2 linked regions of the Homo sapiens genome follow. The protein of the gene in region 1 purifies or fractionates together with the protein of each later gene. This does not show direct contact. Each region holds a gene or a part of one and is shown in the gene's direction. Other genes may lie near its edges.

Region 1 (3,446 bases):
GGCGACAGAGCAAGACTCTGTCTCCAAAAAAAAAAAAAAAAAAAAAAATATATATATATATATATATATATATATATATATATATTTTGTGTGTGTGTGTGTGTGTGTGTGTGTGTAGAGATGAGGTCTTGCTATGACTGGTGTCAGCTCCTGGTCTCAAGGACTTCTCCTGTCTCGGTCTCCCAAAGTGCGAGCATCACAGGCATGAGCCACCGTGCCTGGCCTTATTGGCTACTTGAATATCCTTTTTTGTAAAGTGTCCATTTAAGTAATTTGCCCATTTTTCTTTCAGGTTGCCTGCCTCCCTTATTGGTTTCTAGGGATTCTTTATAATTTCTGTAATGAGCCCTTTTTTGATATGTGCATTTTGAGTGTTCCATCCTTCTTGTGGTTGCCTTTTCACTCTCTTCATGGTGTCTGTAGATGAACAGATATTTTATTATTTATTTTCTGGGGAGATAGTATCTTGCTCTGTTACCCAGGCTAGAGTGCAGGGGCATGATCATGGCTCACTACAGCCTCGAACTCCTGGGCTCAAGTGATCCTCCTGCCTCAGCCTCCTGAGTAGCTGGGACTACAGGCATGCACCACTACAACTGGCTTAGATGTTTTAATTTTTTTTTTTTCTTGAGACGGAGTTTCGCCCTGGTTGCCCAGGCTGGAGTACAGTGGCACGATCTTGGCTCACCGCAAGCTCTGCCTCTTGAGTTCAAGCGATTCTCATGCCTCAGCCTCCCAAGGAGCTGGGATTACAGGCTTGAACCACCACGCCTGGCTAATTTTTGTATTTTTAGTAGAGACTCAGGGCGCGCCCCGGGGACCCGCACCGTGTACAGACGGGCTCAGGGCGCGCCCCGGGGACCCGCACCGTGTGCAGACGGGCTCAGGGCGCGCCCCGGGGACCCGCACCGTGTGCAGACGGGCTCAGGGCGCGCCCCGGGGACCCGCACCGTGTGCAGACGGGCTCAGGGCGCGCCCCGGGGACCCGCACCGTGTGCAGACGGGCTCAGGGCGCGCCCCGGGGACCCGCACCGTGTGCAGACGGGCTCAGGGCGCGCCCCGGGGACCCGCACCGTGTGCAGACGGACTCAGAGCCTGCCCCGGGGACCTGCACAGTGTACAGACACACCTGTTCTCTGGTCCTATAATGCTCTATCACTTTAACAAATAGGAAAAACGGAAACTTTATTCAGGGTCCCCCTGCTTCTTCCCTGCAGACATGGTGGAGCTGCTGCTGCTGCAGAACGCACAGGTGCACCAGTTGGTCCTGCAGAACTGGATGCTCAAGGCCCTGCCCCCAGCCCTGCAGGTAGGCTTAGCCCCCAGCAGAACCCTAGGCCAAGGAAACAGGGCCTGGGTGGTTTTTCTTCTGGAAATTTCTGCATCTGTGTAGCTCTGAAAGGGCATTCCTGGCTCAGGTCTACAGTCTGGCTGTGAAGCCCCCATCCCCATCGAGTCCCAGCCCAGATGAGGAATGGGTTGCACAATTTGGGGCGGGGGAGGAGCCTCCTCTGGGAGGATGCTTAGACCCTGCCATCCTGCCTATCACATGGGATCCAGCCCCAGTTAGGAACAGGGCGGGAGTGGAGGTGGGGAGCAGCCTGGGCTGCGTCCTAAGCAGCAGGTGCGTCTGTGGCAGGACCCGCCACATGTGCCCCCGAGGGTCCCACGAGCTGCCAGGCCAAGGCTGCCTGCCGTGCACCACCACCACCACCACCACCATGCTGTGTGGCCACCTGGGGCTGCCACTGTCCTCCAGCCCGCCCCCAGCCTGTGGACGCCTGGCCCACCCTGAGTGTGAGTCACAGAGACCCTGGCCGGGGCACCCTCCACCCCCAGGCTTCCTCAGGGCTGTGGGCTGTGGCGGGACTATGGAAGGGAGCAGGGAGAGACCCTGCCACCACCCGGAGTGGCTACGCGAGTGTGGACTGCAGGCTCCTCCTGGGGAAGCTGGGCAGGCTCGCTTTCTGGTCACGGGGCCATTCCAGGGGGCATCCCTTGCTCCGGGTCCCCTGCAGTGAGGGGCCTGTGAACCCCACCAGGGCAACAGCCCCTCCCAGGGACCCCTCCTTTCCTGTAGGGCGGCGCCGGCCCACCTGGGAGCCTCAGATCCCCCTCTTCCATCACGGAGGTAAAGTTGAGGCCGTGGACGCCACCAGCCTGATGAAATAAAGATTTCATCCAGAAAGAGTTTAAGAAAATCTCAGCTCAGGAGCCAGAACAGAAAAGATCAATAGCTTTAGCCACATGGAAGTGTGAACATCCTGATGGGGAAAATACCACAAAGTCTAATTTAATAACTAGGGACACCTGTGTCCACAGCTGTGGCACAGACTCCCACTAAAGAAGTAGGGGTGCATGGCTCATGCCTGTAATCCCAGCACTTTAAGAGGCTGAGGCAGGAGGATCACTTGAGCTCAGGAATTCGAGACCAGCCTGGGTCACATAGCAAGACCCCGTCTCTACAAAAAATAAATTTAAAAAACTAGCCAGGTGTGGTGATATGCGCCTGTTATCTCAGCAGCTCTGGGGGCTGAGGTGGGAGGATTGCTTGAGCCCAGGAGTTAGAAGCTGCAGTGAGCTCTGATGGAACCACTGCACTATAGCCTGGACCACAGAGCAGGCCCCTGTCTCAAAAATAAAATAAAAAAGTGAAAGAAGCAAGCTGTGTATGACGTGATCCCTTTTGAGTTAATAAAAAAAAAAAAGGGAGAGTGCTAATGCTATAAATGCAGAAATCTCTACATGCTGGTTTGCACAGCTCTTGTTCCTGTAAAGCAAAGGTGAGTGCTGGGCAGTGGAAGGGCGGCTCACTCCCCTCAGTTCAGTTTCCTTCTGTGCTGTGGGGTTTCTTACCATGTGGACAGGCTACCTTGACTATTTCTTTTCTTTACTTTTTGTTACTTTTTTTTTTGGGTGCAATTATGTTTCTTTGCTCTTTTAATGTTGTTTACATATTTTTAAGTAGTATACATAAACTTTCATTCACCCCCTATTAGGACAGATTCTTTCATTCCTGAAGTTCCGCACAAGGAGGAACCCTGTCCCAGTGCTTCCATCTTTGAAAGTTTGCAGGTAGGAGACAGGATGACCAGAGAGTTGCCACTGAGCTGCAGAGCTCCCCAGGGACAGCCACCTGGTGCTGACATGGACGGGCAGGTGTGAACACCGAAGGGCCCAGCGCAGCTACTGGCAGTAACACTCACTTCTCTCAGAACCATCTTTTCGTGCCTCTTGAAGGTGATTCCAGAGACTCTGTGCTCTCGTTAAAAGCTCAAACCAAAGCTCAGACTCCATTTCCTCTTTTCAAGGTGACTTTCCAGCATGGCATTTCTTTCTTTCTATTAAAAATGTTTTTTTTTGAGACAGAGTTTTGCTCTTGTCGCCCAGGCTGGAGTGCAATGGAGCGATCTCGGCTCACTGCAAGCTCCGCCTCCCAGGTTCAT
Region 2 (3,300 bases), on another chromosome or scaffold:
AGTTATCTAAAGTATGGCTTAATGTATTTTTTTCCCTCTGAAAAAGATCATATGCCAGGATACTTCTTCAAACCAGATCACTTTTAATATCTAGAAAGATAATTTTCAAGGTATAGGCAAAAGCACTTCAAGGACAGAGATTATGTAGCAAGTTGATTCTCTAGGAATTCTTTGAACTCATTTGTGTAATAGCTGGAACACACTCCTCTTCTTTCCTTTAACAAATGAACTTTTAGCACTTCTGTCTTCAAGGAAAAACATTTGTTTGGAATTGAAGGGTACTCGCAGTCCGTTTATAGTTTGGGACAATTAATAGGAAAATCCCCAGTTGCATTCAAATAATAGTGTTGATGTTGAGGGCACTGACTCATTCAGCATGTCTGAACTAGAAGTAAATTTAATTCTGAAAGGACTGTTAGTTAGGAAATAAGTATTTGTATACATATGTACTGTGGTAACTTTGGATTCATTTTAAGTCTGATAAAGTAAGATAAACTTTGTCTTAAAAATAAAATTATGCTAAGTGAATAAAAACTGAGATATTTTAAGCTAGGCATCTTTGTTAGCATAGTATCCGGAACATAACTACTTATAATGCTTAGGTCTTATTTCTTTGGAAAATAAGTTACTTATTCCAGAAGCCTTAGAAGGAATTCTGAAAATTCTTCTAACTGGCCATTAAGAGTAAGGAAGTTGAATGGTACTGCTGAAGATCTGAGTTGACTCACTGAAATTTTATTTTCTTATTTTTTTAACATTAAAATTATTTCTTTTTGGCTCTCCCTCTAGTTATTTTTTAAATTAAGGTAATTACTGTTTTAACCTAGAGCATATAATGGCAAATTAAATTTTAATTTGACACTCATACCGAACTCAGAAAAGCTTGTTTGATCTTCTCTAAATTCTGTATGTAGTACTTTTTTTAATTGTCACATTTCTTTGTTACATCTTTGTGTCCAACAAAACCTGTGGAAATCTGTGTTCATTTTTGTGGTGAGGGATGGGGGTGAAAAAGGGGAGACTTGCTCTAATTATGCATATACATTTGACTATGTAAAGGTAGTTGTAGACTATATGTATAAATAACAAGTTAACACTTAATATTCTAAATTGTTCTAAGGAACAGTGGCCTGAAGCCATGACTAGTTTTGTGGAGCTGCTGGCTCTTTTAACAGTAGCTGACCTATTGGATTTAAACTGAGACTGAAATTGACATTTGTGGTTAGGTTATCTAGCTGAGGCTTTTAACAATGGAGCAGATAATGTCTGTTCCTGTAGTGGATCCATTTAATTTCCTATTTGAGTACTCTCACTTAACAAGTATTATCTATTCTGAACCTTTGTGTTGGGAATTTAAGGACTATTGTCAAAGGCTATTAATGGTAAACAAGTATATGCAAAACAATTCACATATGGGTAAAAATTTCAAATTGTGGGTTTTTGTTTTTGCTTTTTAGTTTCAAAGATTAGTTATGTAGCAGCAATATCATAACCAAAGCAAGTAGGAAGTTGACTGGTTTGGAGAATCTTCAAGTAGTTTTAAATACTGTAATGTATCAGATTGTTAACCAGGATTTTTTTTTCCTGTATTACTGCTAAATATATTACTATATTAATGCACTTTTGTATATATAACTGTCTTCTGTACATTCTGTACTTACTACAGTGTATATAAAGCCTGTTTTCCCTGAAGCTGTGAGGGAATAACAATAGTTGTATCATAAGTCGTTTCTATTTTGAGTTCCTTCTTGTACTTGAAAGTAGTTCAGTAGTGAAATCTAAATGAGTGTGTATGGTTGTAATTAAAACTGGCAATGTGGCAGAGCTGTCTTTTGAAACTGAATACCAGAATGAAAAGTGTTGTTTTGGTTAAGAACTCTTATAATATATTATTTCTTTTGATGTACCCTGAGTTGTTACACAGCCCACTCACTGCTGCTTACTACTTTATACTTCTGAGTCAGCTCCTTTCATGCTCTATCCCAGAATATTTACCAACAGAGGAGAACTGCTCCCTTTTCTGTTTCTCACAGTTTGGTTATGGCTTTATAAACTTTTATTTGGTGAAAGCCCCAGATACCCAAATGTCATTGGCAAAACTTATTTTTTTTTCTGGACAGATCAGATTTCTAGAGAGAGCAGATTTCTAGAGAGATTAGCATTCATAGTAAGTGAAAATTGTCTAATTTTTTTAATCCATGCTATTACTGGGCAGTAGGTCTAATTTTTTTTGACAAAAAATAGATCTATTTTCCTTATATATTGATTTAGAATCTTAAGTTAGAATTTTATAGAAGAAATGTCTGAGCAGTTCTATGTATGGAGGAGCAATTCAGCTTTTCAGCAGCAACTTTATCTTTTGCCACTAGAGGGAGATCTGTGGTTGCTTTCTCCTTTGGAGAATAGCTGCTTTGCTTTTATTTTTAATTTCTAAGGTTGGAATAGAACTTATTCTCAAAATTCCTTTAGTGTTATTAAATATTTTCATTTATTAGTCAAAGGTAAGTTAATTAAGCTTGTTTAATGATGCCAATCTTATGCTTTTCTGTAATCTTCAATTTTTAATAAATGTGAGTTAGATACTAAGTGAAATGTGCGTGTGTGTGTTTCTTCTCTTAGGTACTCTAGAGCTCCATATGTGGCTAGTGACTACCATAATGGGCAGTGCATAATGTACTATCCATTATGGTAGTCACTAGCCACATATGTCTATTTAAATGAATTAAAGTTAAGTAAAATTTAAAATGTAGTTCTTTAGTCTCCTTAGCAATTCTTCAAGTATCCAGTAGCTACCATGTGGCTACAGGCTATTTACTGTATTGAAAAGCATGAGATGTAGAACATTTCCATCATCACAGAAAGTTCTGTTGGACAGTGCTGCTCTAGAGATTTGCTGGTTTATGTAGTGATCATTATCATCATTTTATCAGTGAACAGTAATTAGTGGCTAAAAAACTGCTGCCCACAGTTAACTGTTGTAGGTGATTGGTGTGAGAGGGAGATTAAACTTTTTCTTTTTTTTGAGACAGGGCCTCGCTCTGTCACTCAGGCTGGTATGCAGTGGTGTGATCATAACCCACAACAGCTTTAACCTCCCAGGCTCAAGCGGTCCTCCCACCTCAGCCTCCGAAGTAGCTAGGACCACGGGCACATGTCACCACACTCAGCTAATTTTTCAATTTTTTGTAGAGATAAGGTCTCTACAAAAAATGTTTTTTGTCTAGGCTGGTCTCGAACTCCTGGGCTCAAGCAATCCTCCTGCTTTGGCCTCCCAAAGTTCTGGGATTATAGGTGTGAGCC

Evidence for each region.
Region 2: the proteins of C21orf58 (region 1) and FAM199X purify together in Homo sapiens (affinity purification with mass spectrometry; one large-scale study listed by BioGRID and IntAct). This does not show direct contact.

The regions. Positions count from the first base shown.
Region 1 is NC_000021.9:46,300,348-46,303,793, reverse strand, and holds the end of C21orf58 (uncharacterized protein C21orf58), read left to right. Parts: intron 1-1,217; coding exon 1,218-1,309; intron 1,310-1,639; coding exon 1,640-1,795; 3' UTR 1,796-2,664; downstream 2,665-3,446.
Region 2 is NC_000023.11:104,193,311-104,196,610, forward strand, and holds the end of FAM199X (protein FAM199X), read left to right. Parts: 3' UTR 1-2,592; downstream 2,593-3,300.